Linked DNA regions of Homo sapiens. Changing the gene in region 1 together with any one later gene gives a genetic interaction. Each region holds a gene or a part of one and is shown on either strand. Other genes may lie near its edges.

What was found.
Region 2: changes in XRCC1 (region 1) and PARG together harm fitness more than expected from each alone (negative genetic interaction), as found in Homo sapiens cells (one study listed by BioGRID).
Region 3: changes in XRCC1 (region 1) and ATR are lethal when combined (synthetic lethality), as found in Homo sapiens cells (one study listed by BioGRID).

Annotation. Positions count from the first base shown.
Region 1 is NC_000019.10:43,572,451-43,579,962, reverse strand, and holds the start of XRCC1 (DNA repair protein XRCC1), read left to right. Parts: upstream 1-4,435; 5' UTR 4,436-4,504; coding exon 4,505-4,555; intron 4,556-4,960; coding exon 4,961-5,053; intron 5,054-7,512. Other genes in the region: PINLYP (phospholipase A2 inhibitor and Ly6/PLAUR domain-containing protein), read right to left, coding at 1,257-1,373, 2,702-2,843. UniProt on the Homo sapiens protein: Scaffold protein involved in DNA single-strand break repair by mediating the assembly of DNA break repair protein complexes. Negatively regulates ADP-ribosyltransferase activity of PARP1 during base-excision repair in order to prevent excessive PARP1 activity.
Region 2 is NC_000010.11:49,854,986-49,862,094, forward strand, and holds part of PARG (poly(ADP-ribose) glycohydrolase), read right to left. Parts: intron 6,679-7,109; coding exon 6,603-6,678; intron 2,469-6,602; coding exon 2,321-2,468; intron 1-2,320. UniProt on the Homo sapiens protein: Poly(ADP-ribose) glycohydrolase that degrades poly(ADP-ribose) by hydrolyzing the ribose-ribose bonds present in poly(ADP-ribose). PARG acts both as an endo- and exoglycosidase, releasing poly(ADP-ribose) of different length as well as ADP-ribose monomers.
Region 3 is NC_000003.12:142,561,646-142,568,754, reverse strand, and holds part of ATR (serine/threonine-protein kinase ATR), read left to right. Parts: intron 1-600; coding exon 601-692; intron 693-2,493; coding exon 2,494-2,634; intron 2,635-5,645; coding exon 5,646-6,523; intron 6,524-7,109. UniProt on the Homo sapiens protein: Serine/threonine protein kinase which activates checkpoint signaling upon genotoxic stresses such as ionizing radiation (IR), ultraviolet light (UV), or DNA replication stalling, thereby acting as a DNA damage sensor.

The DNA.
Region 1 (7,512 bases):
AGGTCTGGGGTGGTCTCTTTCATTTAACTCATGCCCATCTTCTCTCTTCCATTTTATTTTCTGAGACAGGTTTCCCTCTGTTGCCCAGGCTGGAGTGCAGCGGTGTGCACTTAGCTCGCTGCAGCCTCGATCTCCTAAGCTCAAGTGATCCTCCTGCCTCAGCCTCCCAAGTGGCTGGGACTACAGGCATGTGCCACCATGCGCAACTATTTTTTTTTTTTTTTTTCTGTAGAGATGGATCTCTTTTTGTTGTCCAGGCTGGTCTCAAACTCCTGGGCTCAAACGATCCTCCCACCTCAACCTCCCAAAGTGCTGGGATTACAGGCGTGAACCACCGTGCCCGGCCTCCCTTTCATTTTACTCATCCACATCTCCCCCTCCCTGTCTCTGCTTCTCCTCTTTACGATGATTTGCTCAGCCAGGCACGGTAGCTCATGCCTGTAATCCCAGCACTTTGGGAGGTCGAGGCGGGAGAATCACTTGAGGTCAGGAGTTAGAGACCAGCCTGGCCAACATGGCGAAACCCCGTCTCTACTAAAAAATACAAAAATTAGCCAGGTGTGGTGGCACGCACCTGTAATTCCAGCTACTCGGGAGGCTGAGGCAGGAGAATCGCTTGAACCTGGGAAGTGGAGGTTGCAGTGAGCAGAGATCGCGCCATTGCACTCCATCCTGGGTGACAGAGCGAGACTCTGTCTCAAAAAAGAAAAAAAATGATTTGCTCCATACTTCAAGGTTATCATCCATCTCCTGTTTGGGGTGATCCCTTTTCTGTCTCTTCCACCACTCCAACACTCCACCATCATCTCTCCTCCCTCGGTCAGGAATGACCTCTTCCCTGATTACACTTACACTTTCCCACCCCAGCCCAGCCTCTTCCTTCTCTATCCACTCCCCACCATTTCCACCTCCTGCCAGTTAGATTCTTCCCCTCTCACTATTTCTCTGCCCCCCACAGTGTCTTTCCTTACCCCTCTTCTGCCTAAGAAAGTCTATTAACTCTCACCCCTCCCACATTTTCCTTCTCTTTAGGACAGTGTCATTTTCAGAATTCTGTGACAATAATGATTTCTATCACACCACTTATTTCTGTTCCCTCCATCTCATGATGGTCTTTCCCTCTTTCCTGCTCTCCACTGATTTCTTCCCACGCTCCCGTCTTGAGAACCATGATGATCCCCCCTCAGCATGGTAGTCTCTTCCACCCTGAAGGTACACCCCACCTCCCCACCAGGTCCCAGGCCACATCCTCTTACTTGAAGTAGCCTTCCCGACCAGGAGCACACATGTGTCCTTGTCACTGCTGCAGGTCTTCATTTGGCCATGGCACCTGCTCCCCGCCGCCGTACATATTTCGCAGTGTAGTGGGCACCCTGCAGTGTAGACAGAGGGCGAGGCTGTAGTCATGGGTGGTGTGGTCTTCGGACCACGACTTTGACTTAGGACTTTTGTGTCCTGAGAGAGGAGGGACCAGCAGCTCCCTGGTTTTTCATGGGCGGGATGTTGACCACTGCCCAAGGAACTGTCCAGAGTTGGACGAAGAAGCAGTGGTGATGCCAGCAAAGCTGCTTCCAGGGGCGGGAAGCGACTCCACCATGAAGCCTGTTTGCCTAATTACATGGCTGGGGATTTTGGATGCCAGGGTCCGCTGAGAAAGCTCAGGGGCAGGGAGGGGTCGTGATGGAGGTTTCCATGGACTTTTGTGAAACTTCAGGTCCAGCTGGTTCTTGAATGTGGGATTCTCCTCCTTGAAGGTGCCATGTAGGTCTTGTAGACAGCAGGAGCTCAGGCAGGGGGCCCTGAGGCTAGGGTCTGCATCCCAGGTCAAGGAGGGAGAGTGAGGACCAGGAGGGCAGAGGACTTGAACTTCTTGGTTCTGAGAGAGGGGACAGCTAGGGGCCCAGAAACCTGGGTCCTGGGGAAAGTGAGGCTTACTTGGACTCCTGTGTGCAGGGGAGGAGGGGGCTGGGGCCTGAACTTCTTAGTCTAAGGAGAAAGGAAATCTCTCTACCTCTTTTAAAAAAATATATCATATGATATTAATGTATTTTTTTTGAGATGGAGTTTTGCTCTGTCACCCAGGCTGGGGAGTGCAGTGGCACGATCTTGGCTCACTGCAACCTTTGCCTCCCAGTTTCAAGCAATCCTCTCACCTCAGCCTCCCAAGTAGCTAGGATTACAGGCGCCCACCACCAAGCTCAGCTAACTTTTTTTGTATTTTTAGTAAAGACGGGGTTTCACCATGTTGGCCAGGCTGGTCTTGAACTCCTGACCTCAAGTGATCCACCTGCCTCGGCCTCTTAAAGTGCTGGGGTTACAGGCATGAGCCACCGCACCTGGCCTTCTCCCTCTTTTTTTTTTTTTAATTATATTTTTAAAGATTTCCCTTTCCAGCCATGCTCTCATCTGATTTCCTAGAATTGAGATGTGTTTGGGATCCTTCCTGGAGGATGGAGGATTCAGAGCCCACCAAGCCCCTCTCTCAGGGATCCAATCACAGGAGCTTTTCTTCTCTGGGACCCCCAGGCTTTCTCTTCCTTTACCCTTGGCCTCTTCCATGAATCTGAATTTCCAGAATGCCTCCCCGTTCACCTTGAGGACTTGCTGAAGGCTCTTTCTCTCTCTATATCTCTCTCTCTCTCAATCTGGGACCTCTCTCTTCCTGAGGTCCCAGAGACAGTTCAGGTCCCTTGTCACTTACCAAGACCCAGGAGGGTGCAGAGCAACACAAAGGCCAGCAGAAAGGTCTCTGGTCTCCTGGAGAGCCTCATGGTGTGTGTATCAGCAGTACCTGGTCCCCAGCTTTTATAGGAAGCTGAGGAGGGGTGGGTCTGGACCCACATTCACCCTACGGGGAGAAATAGCTGAGGTCAGAACCCAGGGCAGTCCTCTGTGGCCTCCGGGTTGGGAAGGCAGAACCAGAATCCAAAAGTGACCTGGGCATCTTGTGCCCAGCCCCCCACCTCCATGGAGACCCCAGGAGTCTGGGCTTCCATCCCCCTCTTCTATTAGAACCCAGAAAGTCACCACCCTGTTTTCTCACCTTCCCACGGCCCATTGTTGTTTGTTTGTTTGCTTGAAGACCAAGACGGAGTTGGGCCTCTTGATTCCCAGTGGCTGCAAGAACTGGGATTCCCTCTCCTTCTCTCTCTTCCCCTCTCCTCCCAAGGAAGCACCCAGTGTGGGTAGGGCCCCACCTTGGAGCACCCAGCATGTCCAGGCTGGTCCTGCGGGTGCGGGGTGCCTTGTCTCCCTTCCCCTCTCTTCATGTGCTCGGCTCACACTCCTTGTGTGTTTGGGCTGTCTCCAGCTGCGACCCCACCCAGGGCTGCACCCTTGGGTCTCCAAGGCACCGAATGAACAGAGGGATGTCTGTCGGCAGTCATAGGCGGGCGTAGTAAAAGACAGATGCCCACAGTCCACATATTGGGAAACTGAGGCTTTTGTGGAAGAACTCCAGGATAGGGGTGTGTGTGTGTGTGTGTGGTGGGGGTTGGGCACATGCTTTGTGTTATATTTAGGACGCAGAACCCTTCTCTTTTGGCCTCAGGCATAAGGCTGAAAGAGATCTGCTAATTTTTTTCGCGCGTGCGCGCGCGCGTATGTATGTATATGTGCGTGTGTGTGTGTGTGGCAAGGGGACAGAGAGAAGAGTGCAGCCGCCTGAGCCATTTGAAGAGATCCTGTTGCGTAGAATCCAGGTTCCCTACGAAACTACGAAAATTCACTCAGATTTGCTGTCCTAGCCCAGCGCAGTCGCTCACGCCTGTAGTTCCAGCACTTTGAGAGGCCGAGGCAGGTGGATCGCTTGAGCTGAGGAGTTCGAGACCAGTCTGGGCAACATGGCAAGACCCGCCGCCCTCTCACCCCATGTCTCCACAAAAAATACAAAAATTAGCCGAATGTGGTGGCGCGTGCGTGTAATCCCAGCTACTTAGGAGGCTGAAGTGGGAGGATCCCTTGGCCCCAGGAGACAGGGGTTGCAGAAAGCCGAGATCGTGCCACTGCACTCCATCCTGGGTGAGAGAGCAAGACCCTGTCTCAACAAAAAATTTTTAAAAAATAAAATAAATAATAATACAGCAAAAAGATTTGCTTTCTCGGCTTCAGTGTGGGCGGTAACTCCATCGTGCAATGAGAAAGGCGAATTTCTTCCAGACACCAATCCCGGAGGTCGCTTCTGTTGCTAGGCTCCCAGAAAGCAGGGTTCGGACGTCATTGGGAGGCGAGGCTAGAGCGGGGTTGTGTGTGGCGGAGGGAGGCGGGGCTGGAGGAAACGCTCGTTGCTAAGGAACGCAGCGCTCTTCCCGCTCTGGAGAGGCGCGACTGGGCTTGCGCAGTGTCGACGCCGGCGCCGGCGCGCCGGGGTTTGAAAGGCCCGAGCCTCGCGCGCTTGCGCACTTTAGCCAGCGCAGGGCGCACCCCGCCCCCTCCCACTCTCCCTGCCCCTCGGACCCCATACTCTACCTCATCCTTCTGGCCAGGCGAAGCCCACGACGTTGACATGCCGGAGATCCGCCTCCGCCATGTCGTGTCCTGCAGCAGCCAGGACTCGGTGAGGGACCTGCATGGGGGAGGTTGGAAGACGTGAGGGAATTAATGAGGATAGCTCTTAAAAGAGCTTTTGGGGTTCTCTTGGAAGTCTAAGGAGAGTCATGGGGGGATTTCCAGGAGGCTAAAAGTGAATTGTGGAGAGATGTTGAATTAGGGACGTTCCGGCGTCTAGGGAACTTCCGGAGAGAAAAGGAGGAATAGGGAAGCTTTCTTGGAGAGCCCATAGGTGAACTTCCACGGGAAAGTGTTGTAGGGGAAACTCCAGGCAGAGTGTCGGGGGATTAACGGGAGAGCTTAAATCTGGGGGTCGTAGAGGCCTTGGGAGGACTCAAAGGAATCATCTGAGAGCTGGAGGCCTAGCTGTCATCTCTGTGCCCTAATTCTCCTCTCCCACTGTTGTTTCCAGACTCACTGTGCAGAAAATCTTCTCAAGGCAGACACTTACCGAAAATGGCGGGCAGCCAAGGCAGGCGAGAAGACCATCTCTGTGGTCCTACAGGTGATCCTGCCACCCCACCTCCTCCTCACTAGGAGTCTGGAGTCCGGGGTTCCAGATTCTGCTCCTGAGCCAACTGGCAGTGGGTTTAGTCACTTTCTTTGCTGGGCCTCAGCTTCCTTACTCGGAAAATGGGCAGCATAATCCCTGTGCCCCTCAGCAGAGAGGAAAGGAGACCCAAGGATTAAGTCCAGGATGACCACAGGAATCAGTGTGTGGTCCTGGGCAGGTGGCATCTACTTTCTGGGTTCCAGTTTCCTCAGCTGGAACAAAATGAATCATTGCCACGTACTCTGCCTCCTGCAGCCAGTGGGCTCAGGGCTGGAAGGTGTCCAGGAAGGTCGTCTAAGCCAATCAACTCCACTTTAAAGAAGGGGAAACTGGCCGGATGCCGTGGCTCATGCCTGTAAACCCAGCACTTTCAGAGCCTGAGATGGGAGGATTGCTTGAGCTCAGGAGTTCCAGACCAGCCTGGGCAACATATCAAGACCCTGTCTCTATTTTTATTAAAATAAATAATTTTTTTTAAAGAATAATAGCCAGGTATGGTGGTTCACACCTGTAATCCCATCACTTTGGGAGGCCGAAGCTGGAGTATTGCATGAGCCCAGGAGTTTGAGACCAGCCTGGGCAATACAGTAAGATGTCATCTCTACCAAAATTTTATAGATTAGCTGAGTATGGTGGTGTGCACCTGCAATCCCAGCTACTGGCGAGTCTGAGGTGAGAGAATTGCTTGAGCCCAGGAGATGGAGGCTGCAGTGAGCTGAGATTGTGCCACTGCACTCCAGCCTGGGCACCAGAGTGAGACCCCCAAAATATAAAAAATAAAATAATAATAATGAGAGCTGGCATTATTCAACGTTACCTGTCAGTCGCTGCTCTACACACCTCACTCACATGGATTAGCTCATTGAGTCCTCATAAAAAACCCCAAGAGGCAGGCTCTGTTATCCCCACTTTTACAGATGAGGAAACTGAGGCCCAAAGAAGTTATACAATTTGCCTGACAGTCAATCTTTTATTTATCTGTTGAGACAGAGTCTCACTCTGTTCCCAGGCTGTAGTGCAGTGGCATGATCTTGGCTTGGCTCACTGCAGCCTCTACCTCCTGGGCTCAAGCGATCCTCCCACCTCAGCCTCCTGAGTAGCTGGGACTGCAGGTGTGCACCACCATGCCTGGCTAGTTTTTTTTGTATTTTTTTAGAGATGGGGTTTCCACCATGTTGCCAGGCTGGTCTCAAACTCCTGGGCTCAAGCGTTCCTCCTGCTTCAGCCTCCCAAAGTGCTCGGATGACAGGCATGAACCATTGTTCCTGGCCTGGGGGCTGCTTTATGACTATAAGGAGCAGAACACTCTGTGGATAGTGCTAGGGTGACGGAAAAATTAACCTTTTGTGAATGGGCAGTCATTCAGCAAATATCCACTCCTCTCCCTCCCACTGGAGGGGGAGTATATTTCCCTGCTCCATTGATGAGTTTGACCATATGATTTACTTAATGGAATTTCAGCACATCTAACTTCAGCAAGGGCCTTAAATGCACTTGGCTTTTGTGCTCCCATAATATGCCATGAGAACATTTGCCAGGTTACTGCTAATCCCAGAAAACTGTGGAATCTCATGGAAGAGACCTGAATCCTCCCAAACTGCAGCCAAAGCAGCCATCCCACAAATTCTTATAAGAATGCTTGTTGGTATAAGTCTCAGTTTTCATGTTGGGAGGTCGAGGTGGGTGAATCGCTTGAACCCAGGAGTTTGAGACCAGCCTGGGTAACATGGGGAAACCCTATCTCTACGAAAAATTATAAAAAATAGCTGGGCTTGGTGGCGTATGCCTGTAGTCCCAGCTACCAGGGAGGCTGAGCGGGGAGGATTGATTGAGCCCATAAGGTTGAAGCTGCAGTGAACTGTGATGGTTTCACTGCACTCCGGCCTGTGAGACAGAGTGAGACTGTATCTCAAAAAAAAAAAAAAAAAAAAAAAGAAAAGATCTCAGTTTTAGGATGATTTGTTACACAGCATTATTACAGTGTAAGTTAATACAACTTGGTTGTTTTAAACCACTGAGATTAGGGACTCCTTTGTTACTGTAACATCATCTGGTCCACCCCAATTGATGTCAGTGTTTAGTGCCTGTCAACTAATGGCCTCCACTTCCCAGGTTCAAATGATTCTCATGCCTCAGCCTTCTGAGTAGTTGGAATTTACATGCCTGGCTAATTTTTGTATTTATAATAGAGACCGAGTTTTGCCATGTTGGCTAGGCTGGTCTTGAACTCCTGACCTCAGGAGTTCAAGGCAAATGAGCACCAAATGCTAATTTAAGTGATCCACCCACCTTGGCCTCCCAAAATGTTGGGATTACAGGCATGAGCCACTGCACCTGACCTCAGTCTTTTAAACTGTGATAGATACAGATTGCTGACAGTTTTAGTCTTGAGATCTAGATTCAAGCCCCCA
Region 2 (7,109 bases), on another chromosome or scaffold:
AAAAAAAAAAGCAGTCAGTAGTAACTGCCCCTGAGGAGCCCAGATGTTGGACTTAGTAGACAAAGAATTTACATGAGCTATTTAAAATATACTGAAACAACTAAAGAAAACTATGTCTAAAAAACTAAAGTATAAGAATGATGCCTCTCAAATAGAGAATATTAATAAATAAAGGGATAGAAATTATAAAAAATAAACAGAAATTTGTAATTGAAAAGTACAATAACTGAAATAAAAAATTCACCAGTGAGATTAAAAGCAGTTTAGAGCAAGCAGAAAAAACAACCAGTGAACTTGAAGACAGGGCAATTGAGACTGAGCCTCAGGAACAAGAAGAATAAAGAATGAAGAAAAATAAACAGAGCTTCTGAGACCTGTGGAACATCAAGTGAATCAACAAACACGTAATTTGGGAGTCCCAGAAGATGAGGAAAGGGGAAGAACAAACATTTGAAGAAATAATGGCCCAACATTTACCAAATATAACAAACATTAGAGAGGTTCAAAAAACTTCAAGTAGGATAAAGTCAAAGAGATCTGCATGTAGACACACCATATTCAAACCATTGAAAGTCAAAGAGAATCTTAAAAGCAAAACATAAGAAAATATACTCTTCTGAAGGTTGTCTACAAATCTATCTGAGGCACAGTGTGGCTTCAAGATTAGACTTTGGAGTCGGTTTTGTCATGTATGTCTTTGGAGGTAATGCGGTTGGGTACACATTTTATATAACTCATGGGGAGGGTTTTTCTCCTATTATAATTTTTGGGAATAACAATAAACTAAATTCTACAACCCAGGTGAGTGTTTAGACCCCGAAACTCATCTCCAAGCAGTAACAGATTCTAAGTGGAAATAAAAAATCCACTTTTTCAGGAAAAAAAAATAGTACCAGCAACTCATGGTGCATTAACGGCACTTATGTGGGAATATTCTTTTACGTACTTGAATAAAAGACTCAACTTACATATGGTGCCTGATTAAGAGTTTCTTAAGAGATATGAGGTAATCATCATTTTTCTTGATAGCTTATTCAAAGAAAATACTGTTACATAGTGATCTCAGTCTGAAGAAACAAAAAAAAATTAAATCTCTATAACAGACCTAAAGCATACACGTGACTAAATTTCCCCCCTCCTCCTCCCATATTAGCGTAAAGAAATCAAGAAGGACAAGAAGAAACACCAAGATAATCAGACTTTTTTTTTTTTGAGATGGAGTCTTGCTCTGTCGCCCAGGCTGCAGTACAGTGGCGCGATCTCAGCTCACTGCAACCTCTGCCTCCCGGGTTCAAGTGATTATCCTGCCTCAGCCTCCTGAGTAGCTGGGATTACAGGCACCCACCACCGTGCCTGGCTAATTTTTGTATTTTTAGTAGAGACGGGGTTTCATCATGTTGGCCAGGCTGGTCTTGAACTCCTGACCTCAGGCCATCTGTCTGCCTTGGCCTCCCAAAGCGCTAGGATTACAGGCATGAACTATCGCGCCTGGCCATGATAACTGAACTTTTTCTTTTAGGATTCAAAATAGGGTAAACAAAAGGTTACTGATTTCTCTAAATACTGTTCCTGTGCTTCTTATATTTACACAATGTCTTCATACTAAAGTACAAGAAACCACTTGAAAATTATTTTTAATAGAAACAAATCACTCTCAAATGGAAGAATTACAACAGAATACATACTAGAGGCATATCACTATGTTCTTCTTAAGAGCATTATTATGTCATAAAATTTCAAACTGCCAAGCGTGGTGGCTCACGCCTGTAATCCCAGCAATTTGGGAGGCCGAGGCGGGCGGATCACCTGAGGTCAGGAGTTCGAGACCAGCCTGACCAATATGGAGAAACCCTGTCTCTACTAAAAATACAAAATTAGCCGGGTGTGGTGACGCATGCCTGTAATCCCAGCTACTCGGGAGGCTGAGGCAGGAGAATCGCTTGAACCTGGGAGGAGGAGGTTTCGGTGAGCCGAGATTGCACCATTGCACTCCAGCCTGGGCAACAACAGCAAACCTCTGTCTCAAAAAAAAAAAAAAAAAAAAAAAAATTCAAACTGTGGGGTAACTGAATAGTTTTTAATCCCTGTTCCTCAGATAAAGATGCCACGAAAGAAAGAAAAGGTAAAAATAAGATGTCTTACTTAAGATTAGGAAAATAAGGCTGTAATAATTTCAAAAACTAAGTATAAATTAATGGATAAAAATATTGGGACTGATGCCCATGGAAGATAAAAGCTATACTGGGTAGTCTCTAGTCTTCATGACAGATATTCACAGATGGGGAAGACTACCCCATTTTCCAGGCTTCCCAAAACTAACCTGTGATAATTAGACATTCATTGTGATCCAGCACCTCAGTGAAGAGCCGTGAAATAATCAACTCAGGATTGATTAAAAAGCGGATTTCTTCTTGCACAAGTCCTGCACTGGTTACACCACCTCCAACAAAACGATTTGCAAAATCCACCTGTTGGGGAAATGTGACATATTAAATAATGGTCAAAAATACCTACACATATGATCAAGAAGCACATAGTCTCTAAGCTCTCATCTTTTCCTCTCCCATGAAAATCAATCCCCAAATAAGTAATCTTCCCAGGAAGGGCAGATTTTGGTTGCTTAAGCTCTTTCCACCTCACTGCAGTTAACATCTCTGCACATTTTTCTGGATCCCAGAACCAGAGAAGCAATCTGGAAAATGGAGCTTTTAGGCAAAATATTATGTATCATACAGACTCTTGTTTATAAACCTATTTGTGTCTCATGGGCCACAAATCAAGGGAGGTCTTTATCTGGGAAGGTTTCAAAGTCATTCTCCCCCATTCACTACTCAACTTCCCTTTATGTATTTCACGTGACTTTAATATAATTAAACTTTTCTTATGTAATATGGTAACCAAACACTTGCCCTAAAGAACTGAAAAGTTTAGTAATCAACTTTTTGGGTAACCTTTTCCAACTTTATTGTAAGAATAAAGAGATCGAATTTTTGTCCTTCTAAATTCAACCCCAAACCCCAAACTACATGAACATTACAAACTACTTTTTAAAAATATAACTAAGGAAAAAAGGAAGAAAGAAAACCCAGTATAGCAACAAAGATTCAATTAAAGTAATATTTCCAATTAGGTTGGAAACTCTTAAGCTTTATGTGGAGTAGTATGATGGGATCCCCAAATGCCTACTAATAAAGAAGAATTACACAATCCTCCAGAGAAAGCAAACTCAACTTGCTGGCATTATTTCCGTTTGTCCAGTGTGTCCAGCACTATGCCAGCCTCATGAAGCAGTATGTAAGAAATAGCAACCATCTTTTCCTTAGTGAGACTATCTGAGGAGTTAGATCACACACACACACACACACACACACACACACACACACACAACTTGTGTATATACATAGTCATACACACAAGTAAAATAGGATTTACTAAATACCATGAGGCTTATATTCTTTCAAACTATTTTAAAATATACGATTTCTTAAAACTTCAGTGTTCTCTAAAGCAACTGATACTAAATGACAATCTGAAGCCTATTTTACAAAATAGTAAAACAATAGTATGAATCGTTTGATATGTAAAAATATATGTCAAAAGACAGAAATTAATAGAAGGCGAAGCAGTCTTCTTTTACCACAGGAGAACTTAGAAAATACTAAAACATACCACTGAGGAGTTCTTCAATTGAGCTACCAGAGAGAATCATATATTTGGATTTGTGTTCTGGAGTACTAAAACCAATGCTAAAAAACCAGAGTAACTCTTTAGCTTAAATAGGAAAATAATTTTGGTGAAACCAGTCTGTTGATTAGAATTAGCTACCTACTACATATGAGGTCTATGGGCACTGGGTGATTCATGGCTTAAACTGTCCAATTCAACAAATATTTACTGAGTATTGTGCTGGGAATCACTGGATACAAAGATGAATAAGGTATGTATGGTTCCTGGCCTCACGGCATTTGTAATTTAGATGGCAGTCAGAATGAGCATAAGCAGAATGAGAAGATGATTATTGAAGAGCTTGTTACTATGTATTTGATACTTTCTAATAATACAATTAACTAAAATTGGAGCATGGGAGGAAGATAGGAAAGCTTTACAAGGGGATGTGGCAGCTGACATGCAGGCTGAGGGCATAGCTGCACAAGGACACAGGGCAAAAAAAAAAAACAAATGTAAATCACTATATGAGGGGAATGGTAAACAGATTCATTGTGCTTGCCTGCAGTGTAGAGTAGGTGGAGGCTTACAGTTGGTGATGAGGTGGTCTGAGGTCTAGGGAATTTTTACTCAATTTCCCTCTGAAGGTTCTGGGAAAGATTCAAGTAACACCTGGACCTATGTTTTAGGAAGATAATTCAGGCTAGAGTTTAAAGAATAAATGGAAAACTGTAAAACTAAAAGTAAAAATGCTGGTTAGGTGAGTACTAAATAGTTTATACAGGCACTACTAGGGCCTCAAACAGGAAAGTGGTAAAGTAAAGGAAAGAGAAGAAACTCGGTAAAGAAATAAAATGGACTGTACTTGAGAACTAAGAGACTGGCTGAGTGCCTAAAAGTATAATGATATTGTGACTACAAATGAGAAACAGACGAGGTTTAAGATTGGCCTAACTTAATTTTTACTGGAATAAGGTACATAACAAAAATAAAAAGATAAGCTCTATCCAACTTATGTACTACTTGATAATGATGATGAAATACATTCAATGTGTATGTTATTGTTTACTCTTTGAATAAAAGGCCCACATTTTTAACTTGAAAGGTGTGCACAGAAATAAAGACACTAAACTCAGTATGCCTCTAAATGCCAAAGTCTTTTAGAAAACCAAAGTTTTACTACTTAAAAAAGTTCTTAACAATAAAGACCCTCTACAACAGTTGAGAAACCTGTTCCAGTACATGAAAACAAGAATGTGAATGCATCCTTATTTTTAGCCAGTTATTTTCCAAGTCACTTTAAAGCTACTCATTCAGATTACTCAGCTTCTGAATTATAACTTGATGAAAAGACAGGAATGATAAAGCTCCTCAGAGAGGTTTTGTTGTTGTTGCCATTCAGCATCATGTAATTTATATGCTACACAAGGAGCTCTGTAGCATTGCAATACAATATTCCCCGATCTCCTGCGGAGACATGGCATGGGTAGGGAGAACAATTAATAGCAAGAAGCCCTTACGGTATTCTCTAATCTACCGAGGTCTCACATTTCCATCTATAATATATTCCGAGGAAGTGGGGAGGATCTCAACCTTAACTGTTGTTAAATAATTCCTTGTTGAATTGTATTGTAATGAAAGGTCAGCATTCCTGTGGTGCTAACTAGCAGTAACTTTGTTTAGTTCATGTGTATTAAGAATCTCTCAGTTTATCCAAGACTTTAAAGATGGAAAGAACTTCATCAAGAGGGGAATGTGGGGGAAAAAGTGATACTAATTTGAACCAATATTTAAGCATATTTTAAGATTATTTTTTAAACAGAAAAAAGGTATAGGAGTAAATGCAAATTTAAATATGTTTTGTTTTTGTTTATAAGCTCAAATAACCACTGGGAGAAGGTGATTTAGAATAAAACATAGTTTGTCTCTTTGAAGATTTTAATTACAAATATGTCCAAATAAAAGGCCATTTAAAAAAGAATCTCAGTTTCATTTAAATAATAACTAGACGTAAATCTTATAGTGAGCATTAAGTTATTCAAACAAATCAGTCCATTTTCAGGCAACTGCTTTCTTTAGATTCTGAACCAATATAAGCACCAAATAAGAATCTAAGAAGAAAAATAAACTATTATCAGTATAAATGAGATGGTATACAAGCTTCTTTCAAAGAAAACTCAGTTTACAATGCTCTTATAAATGGGATAAGAACACAAAACACTAACATTAGTGAATGTTAAAGAAGCATTATAAATCAAAAGATTAGGTTAGATATTACTATATTTTAAACACGGGGCTTTTGTTAACCCCCTTCTCCAAAAATACTTTTTAAAGGTAAAGGCGGTAACAGATTATTAACAAAGATTGAGAAGTGGACCAGAATTACCTGCTTTTAACAGGGAAAAGACATAGCAAACAGCTAGCTCACGTGCGTGAAACTGTTACATATGAGAGAGAGGCCTTTCTTATCAATCAGTTTTAGATGTCTGCCCCCTCAACCTAAACAAAGCTGTTGGTGGCAGAAAAACATCTCCATCTGGTCATCAACTGGGGCAGAGCAAGAAGAGCCTTTAAGGAAAAAGAATAAAAATGCCTGGTGACAGTCTGTCAAGACTATACCCTGGGAACTTCCTCCACTGTCAACCTACTATCAATGTCTGAACCAAGAGGCTGATGCTGTCCAGATCTTGGGATTTTCTGTCAAAGGCTTTTTAGAGAAGCACATATAAGAAACAGAGAGTATACACTGGCAAATCACAACATTACCAAGGCTGTCAAAGTGATCTGTTTGGTGTTTTTCTTCATTCTGCTATCATGCTTCTTTGCATTAAATCAGTTTAGGAGACAAATAAACAGTTTTTCAAATTTCTTTTGCTGTCAGAAGCTTGACAAGAAAAAGTCCTAACCATACACAGACACTACTAAGATTCACCTACCTGTAGCATGCCTTGGCCATTTTCTTCTATGGTACCTTCGTAAGTGACATGCAATCGTGTCAAGGGTTTTTCACATCTACAATATAAAAAGACATTCCCTTATTTATTATTTTAATGACAAGTTGTTCACTGCGGACAAAAGTGAAAATATAGGTAACTATTCAAAAACCGAAACCACCCCAAATCTCGAAAGTCAGAAACAGATGCCTACTGTTAACATTCTTGGTATTGATCCTCCTTTATTCAAACATGTAAATATACATATTTAAATTAAAATTGGATAACATAGTTTGAAACCTGATTTTCCTCTAAATAATATGAAAGTTTTTCTTCTTTAAAACAGTTGAAAAACATTACAAAATATTAAAAAAATTAAGATCTATGAAATTTTGTTATGGCTAGAGTTGGCAATCTGAGGAAAAATGTAGAAAAAATTTGGCAATAAATCATATATGATTCTCTTCTGGCTTCCATTTTCTATTTTCACTGTTTCATAACCGTGTGTGT
Region 3 (7,109 bases), on another chromosome or scaffold:
CGGGAGCGGGGAGAGGCCAGGCAGCGGGAGCAGGCATTTCCAAGTCTGTGAGGGCAGGGGGCCTTCCCGGCCCTGGAAAGAGCAGGGATGCCTGGGTTTGCAGCCGTGGTTGGGCGGCTGCAGCTGCACCCAGGATGGCTGGGCTCCCGACCCTGCAACTCGGAAGGGGGCGGGGCTTCCACCTGTCTTGCACCTCAGAAGGGGGCGGGGCTTCTGCCCACTAGCGCCCTGGAGAGAGCAGCCCTAGCACCACCTTCCTCACCGCTCCAACTGGGCTGCCACTGCCATCAATAGCACATTTCAATTTGTACTAATCACATTTCAAGTTCTCCCTAGTTACTTGTAGCTAGTGGCCACCATATTGAGAAGTTCAGGTCTAGGCTTTGCTGATTGGATCTCTTTAGTATTACTTAGCATATTCTTTTTTTTCTTGTAAGTTGGTAACATATTCAGATTTTCTTTTCAATTTTTAAACAGAAGAATACTGTGAATATCAACATTGACACTGAACACATTTGATGAGTTCTACTTTAGAGAAATTTTTTTTGCAAATGAAACTGAGTCACTTTAAGGATTAAAAGCTTTTAATTTGTATTTTAGTGCCACACCAGAGGAATATAATACAGTTGTACAGAAGCCAAGACAAATTCTGTGTCAATTCATTGACCGGATACTTACAGATGTAAATGTTGGTAAGAAACCAATTATTTCTTATATAAACTTTATAAATTAGACTTTTCTTTTCCATGTATAAATTATAGTAGCATTTTCTCCATGTAGTTTTAGATATGGAGTATTTATGATAGTTACTATTTTCAAGCAAGTTATTTGTTAATCAGTATTGCTTATTGCTTGTTACAAAATTTGAATTAGGCTTTTAAAATAATTCTCTTTTCCTGTTTGTTATCTAGATTTTCTACTGCTTGCTATGAGTTCTTTAATATTGGATATTATATGTAAAAATATTTGTCCAGTACCAATCATGTGGACCCTATTTTGGTTAGCTGTTATGCCAGTGGTAGACTAATAGCAAATGCCACCCAAAAAAACCTCTTTAAGTAAGTTACTCTTTAAGTAGGTTCATGCCTGTGCCTATAGGAGATTATAGGATTATGTGAGTTACTGAATCAATTATTGCCTGTTTGTGCCAATCTGCTAGACAGAATATTACCAACCTGGCAAGATGGTGTCACATTTGTCATATCTGTTGAAATTACATGGGAGGGATAATATAAAATGGCATTAGGCTCAGGGTTTATAATTTGGATTCCAAATTTGGCGCAGATTTTATGACTTAGACTAGCCATTAATCCTTTCTTTTTCAATCAGTAAAATGATGGGTTGCTGAAAAATAACAAAGGACTACTGAATACTTACAAGATGTGTTTTTGTATCGTATTCATATTCCCTCCGTTTAGACTACTTGCCCTTCCCCTCTCTGACCAACTCCTCATCTAGGAATCATTTCCTTCACAGTGTCCTCCCAGATACCTGTTTCTCCTTATTCTGGATTAGTGCTGTTACCATATTGTATTATAATTATTAGTTGGTTTGTTTGGCGCCCCACTGGATTGTGAGAACTTTTTTTTAATCCTTAGATTTTAGCATTGCCTGGCATATTATTCCTGAAGTACATGTTTGATAAATAGATGTATGGTAGAGGAATGCATGTGATTTTTAAACATTTAAAATTAGATAAGACTGTAGTGTTGGCTGGGCACGGTGGCTCACGCCTGTAATCCCAACACTTTGGGAGGCCGAGGTGGGTGGATCACCTGAGGTCAGGAGTTTGAGACCAGCCTGGCCAACATGACGAAACCCTGTCTCTACTAAAAATACCAAAATTAGCTGGGTGTGGTGGCACACACCTGTAGTCCTAGCTACTCAGGAGGCTGAGGCAGAAGAATCACTTGTACCCCGGAGGCACAGGTTGCAGTGAGCCAAGATCACACCACTACACTCCAGCCTGGGCAACAGAGTGAGACTGTGTCTCAAAAAAAAAAAAGACTGTAGTGTTTAGCCCCATCAATTTAGCTTGAATGTTGTTGAGTGCTGTGCTGGATATAATTCTGGTCACCAAAGTCTGGTTCCCCACCCCCACCCCACTTTTTGTTTTTTTTTTTTTAATTTTAAGAGACAGAGTCTTGCTTTGTTCCAGGCTGGAGTGCAATAGTGTGATCGTAGCTCACTACTGCCTTGAACTTCTGGGCTCAAGGGAATCCTCCAGCCTCAGCCCCCTGAGTAGCTGGGACTATAGGCACACTACCACTCCCAGCTAATTTTAAGAAAAATTTTTTTTGTAGAGACGGGATCTTGACATCTTATCCAGGCTGGTCTTGAGTTCCTGGGCTCAGGTGATCCGCCCACTTCAGCCTCCCAAAGTACAGGGGTTACAGGAGTGAGGCACCTTGCCTGGCCCACAGTCTGGTTTCTTAACAAAAGGACCATTGTTTAATTTGTCATGACTCTTTAAAATGAATCTTATTGTTTTAGTTGCTGTAGAACTTGTAAAGAAAACTGACTCTCAGCCAACCTCCGTGATGTTGCTTGATTTCATCCAGCATATCATGAAATCCTCCCCACTTATGTTTGTAAATGTGAGTGGAAGCCATGAGGCCAAAGGCAGTTGTATTGGTAAGTGCTGTTATTCATGCATTCACTTGCCATCTGTTCTATAAAATCCTCCTTTTACTGCTCTTCTGAAATATTACATGTACAGGATTATACTTTTTTGGGTCAGCTTTGCTATAAATTGAAGGAGCAAAATGGTAATGGTTATTTTTCCTTCACATATCCTTATTGTTTTCTTTTTAGTATTGTATACTAGGTACTTAGAAATAATCAAATTTGTTTATTTGCCATTGAACACTTTGGCATGGTTTTCTTTTTTCTGTTTTTGGTAATCTCTTTCTTCTAGATCAGAGCTTGGCAAGCTGTAGTCCACAGGGTGGCTGCCTGTTTTTGTGAACAAAGTTTTGGTGTTTTGTTTTGTTTCCTTTTTTTTTTTTTTTTTTTTTTTTTAAATAAGACAGGGTCTCGCTATGTTGCCCAGGCTGGTCTTGAACTGGTAGACTCAAGGGATCCTCCTGCCTCAGCCTCCTGCATACCTGGGACCATAGGCACATGCTACTGTGCCTGGCTTCAGTTTTTGTAAACAAAGTTTTATTAGAACACAGCCATGCTCATTCTTTTACTTATTGTCTGTGACTACTACAAAGGCAACTTGGGCACTCAAGCCAAAAATATTACTATCTGGTCCTTTAAAAAAAGTTTGCTGACCGCTATTCTATATATTGAAGCTTTTCTCTAGGCTTATTCTTTATTGCACCTACTACTTTTGTCCCTTCATTGGTGTCTTCATAAAGAGATGCAAAATAAACATTTTTTTTGTATAATGGATAAAGTATTTTAAAATTTTTTGTTCAAACTTTAACTCAACTTTGATAGCATGTCCTCCAAGAAGTTTTTTTCTGAGCACTACTTCTAACTGCTTAGAACTGGCTTGGTTATTCCTTTATTCTCTCTTAGTACTAAGTGTTCTGCATTTCATCTATCATAGAGGCTATTAAACTGTGCTCTAATCATTGGTTTGTCTATATTCTTTCCTACAGTAGTTTTTAAACTACAGGTCATAACCCACTAGTGGGTTATGAAATTAGGCAATTATCAGCATTTAAAACAAGATGAAATAAACTAGAAAATATCATAGGCTGGGCACGATGTCTCACGCCTGTAATCCCAGCACTTTGGGAGTTCGAGACCAGCCTAGGCAACATGGCAAAATCCTGTCTCTACCAAAACCAAACCAAACCAAACCAAAACAAAACAGAAAAACATTAGCTGAACATGGTGGCACATGCCTGTGGTACAAGCTACTTGGAAGGCTGAGGCACACTAATTGCTTTAGCCTGGGAGGCAGAGATTGCAGTGAGCTAAGACCATGCCGTTGCACTCCAGCCTGGGTAACAGAGTGAGAACCTGTCTCAAGAAAAAAAAAAAGAAAATATTATAGTACATTGTATGTAATAAGAGTAAGTACTATTTAATGAACCTTTTGTTTTAAATATTTAAATAAAATGCATGTATATGTACTGGGTCATGATATAAAATGTTATTTCTTTGTTGCAGTCAAAAAGCTCAAGAAACTGTACTGTGAGATTCATGAGGACAGGACTATGACTGATTTATTCTTGTGTACCTGAGACAGAGTCACCACTCAAATTTTAGTTGAAAGAATGACAATAGCTACCCTTTATTGAACATTTATTTTACTTTGGAACTGTGCTGAGTATTTCATGTGCATTTTCTTATTTGGTCCTCACAGTAACCCATAACATAGATAGCATTATTCTCCTTATACATGAAATTACAGAGGTTCAGAGAAATGAAAAGTTTATACAACTAGTAAGTGGAAAGCTAGGACCTTGCCTGTCTGACTCCAAAGTTGTTACAGGCATACCTCAGAAATATTGTGGGTTCAGTTCCAGACCACTACAATAAAGTGAATATTGCAATAAAGTAAGTCACATGAATTTTTTGGTTTCCCAGTGCATATAAAAGTTATGTTTACGTTGTACCTTAAGTGTGGAATAGCATTATGTCTAAAAAACAATGTATGTACCCTAATTAAAAATACTTTATTACTAAAAAATGCTAACGATTATATCATCCTTCAACAAGTTGTAATATTTGTGCTGGTGGAGTGTCTTGCCTTGATGTTGAGGGCCTTTCTCTGGATTAGGCTTTGGCTTAAGGGAATGTTGTGGCTGGTTTGATCTTCTTTTTTTCCTACTGGAAATTTCCTCATCTTTTAACGATTTGATCTTCTATTCAGAGTACAAAAACTTTCTCCATACCAGCAATAAGGCTGTTTCACTTTCTCATCAATGGTGCGTTCAGTGGAGTAGTACTTTTAATTTCCTCCAAAAACTTTTTCTTTGTTTTAACAAGTTGGTTGTTTGGTGAAAGAGGCCTAGCTTTCAACTTGTCTTGGCTTTCAACATGCCTTCCTCAGTAGGCTTAATCATTTCTAGCTTTTGATTTGAAGTGAGAGATGTGTGACTCTTCCTTTCATTTGAACACATAGAGGCCATTGTAAGGGTTATTAATTAACCTAATTTCAATACTGTGTCTCAGGGAATAGGGAGACACAAGGAGAGGGAGAGAGATGGGGAACTGCTGGTCGGTGGGTCAGAACACATACATTTATCCATTAAGTTTGCCACCTTATATCGGTGTGGTTCATGACAGCTCCAAACAATTACAATAGTAACATCAAACGTCACTGATCACAGATCACCATAACAGATACGATAATAATGAAAATGTTTGAAATATTTTGAGAATTACCAAAATGTGATACAGAGACATGAAGTGACCACATGCTATTGGAAAAATGGCACTGATACACTTGCTTGATGCAGAGTTACCACAACCTTCAATTTGTGACAAATGCAGTATCTGCAACGTGCAATAAAACTGGGTATGCCTGTGTTCTAAACTATTATGTTTCCATTGTGAAGAGAATGTTTTACACTCTTGTTAGTGAAGTTTATTCTTTAAAAGTCAATCGTCAAGGATTTAGCAAATGAATTAGCACTTCGGATATACTTGTTTATTTAATATCTTTTTTGTTTATTTCAAAGAATTCAGTAATTGGATCATAACGAGACTTCTGCGGATTGCAGCAACTCCCTCCTGTCATTTGTTACACAAGAAAATCTGTGAAGTCATCTGTTCATTATTATTTCTTTTTAAAAGCAAGAGTCCTGCTATTTTTGGGGTACTCACAAAAGAATTATTACAACTTTTTGAAGACTTGGTTTACCTCCATAGAAGAAATGTGATGGGTCATGCTGTGGAATGGCCAGTGGTCATGAGCCGATTTTTAAGTCAATTAGATGAACACATGGGATATTTACAATCAGCTCCTTTGCAGTTGATGAGTATGCAAAATTTAGAATTTATTGAAGTCACTTTATTAATGGTTCTTACTCGTATTATTGCAATTGTGTTTTTTAGAAGGCAAGAACTCTTACTTTGGCAGATAGGTTGTGTTCTGCTAGAGTATGGTAGTCCAAAAATTAAATCCCTAGCAATTAGCTTTTTAACAGAACTTTTTCAGCTTGGAGGACTACCAGCACAACCAGCTAGCACTTTTTTCAGCTCATTTTTGGAATTATTAAAACACCTTGTAGAAATGGATACTGACCAATTGAAACTCTATGAAGAGCCATTATCAAAGCTGATAAAGACACTATTTCCCTTTGAAGCAGAAGCTTATAGAAATATTGAACCTGTCTATTTAAATATGCTGCTGGAAAAACTCTGTGTCATGTTTGAAGACGGTGTGCTCATGCGGCTTAAGTCTGATTTGCTAAAAGCAGCTTTGTGCCATTTACTGCAGTATTTCCTTAAATTTGTGCCAGCTGGGTATGAATCTGCTTTACAAGTCAGGAAGGTCTATGTGAGAAATATTTGTAAAGCTCTTTTGGATGTGCTTGGAATTGAGGTAGATGCAGAGGTAAGTAATTTTTCAGGTTACTAGTTAAGTATGTATTTTGTTCATCATTTAATTGTATACATATGTGCAAAATGTAATAATAAGAAAATAGAATATCTTTAATAGTAATTTATATTTGGAACATAATGATTTTCATAGTGTAGTCTGGCTCACTATTATGGACTTTTACTTTGATTTCAGAAGGATTTGTTCATTAAGTTGGTAATGAACTGCCAATGGAGTAGAATGTTTCTAAGTAGAATCTGTGAAGTGTAAATGTATTTGTTGCATTATTAATTAAAAGGGGGCAGTTACCAACTTAATTGCAGAAGCTTTGGTCAATCAGATTATGTGTCTGACAAGTTATAATCAATCACTTTTAGAAAACCTATGAATGATTAATCATGCCAAATTATGCGCTTTTTTCTATTTGGACTGTGGGAGTCAGGTAATACAATAAAATCATCAGAGATGCAGTAACTTGATTAAATATTTTAGTTTATTAATCTTGCTGGATTAAAGTTACATGAAGAAAGTTGGTAATTCCCTTACAGAATTTTTTATAAGGGAATTAAAATTTATAGCATTTTGGTAAGAGGAAAAACAG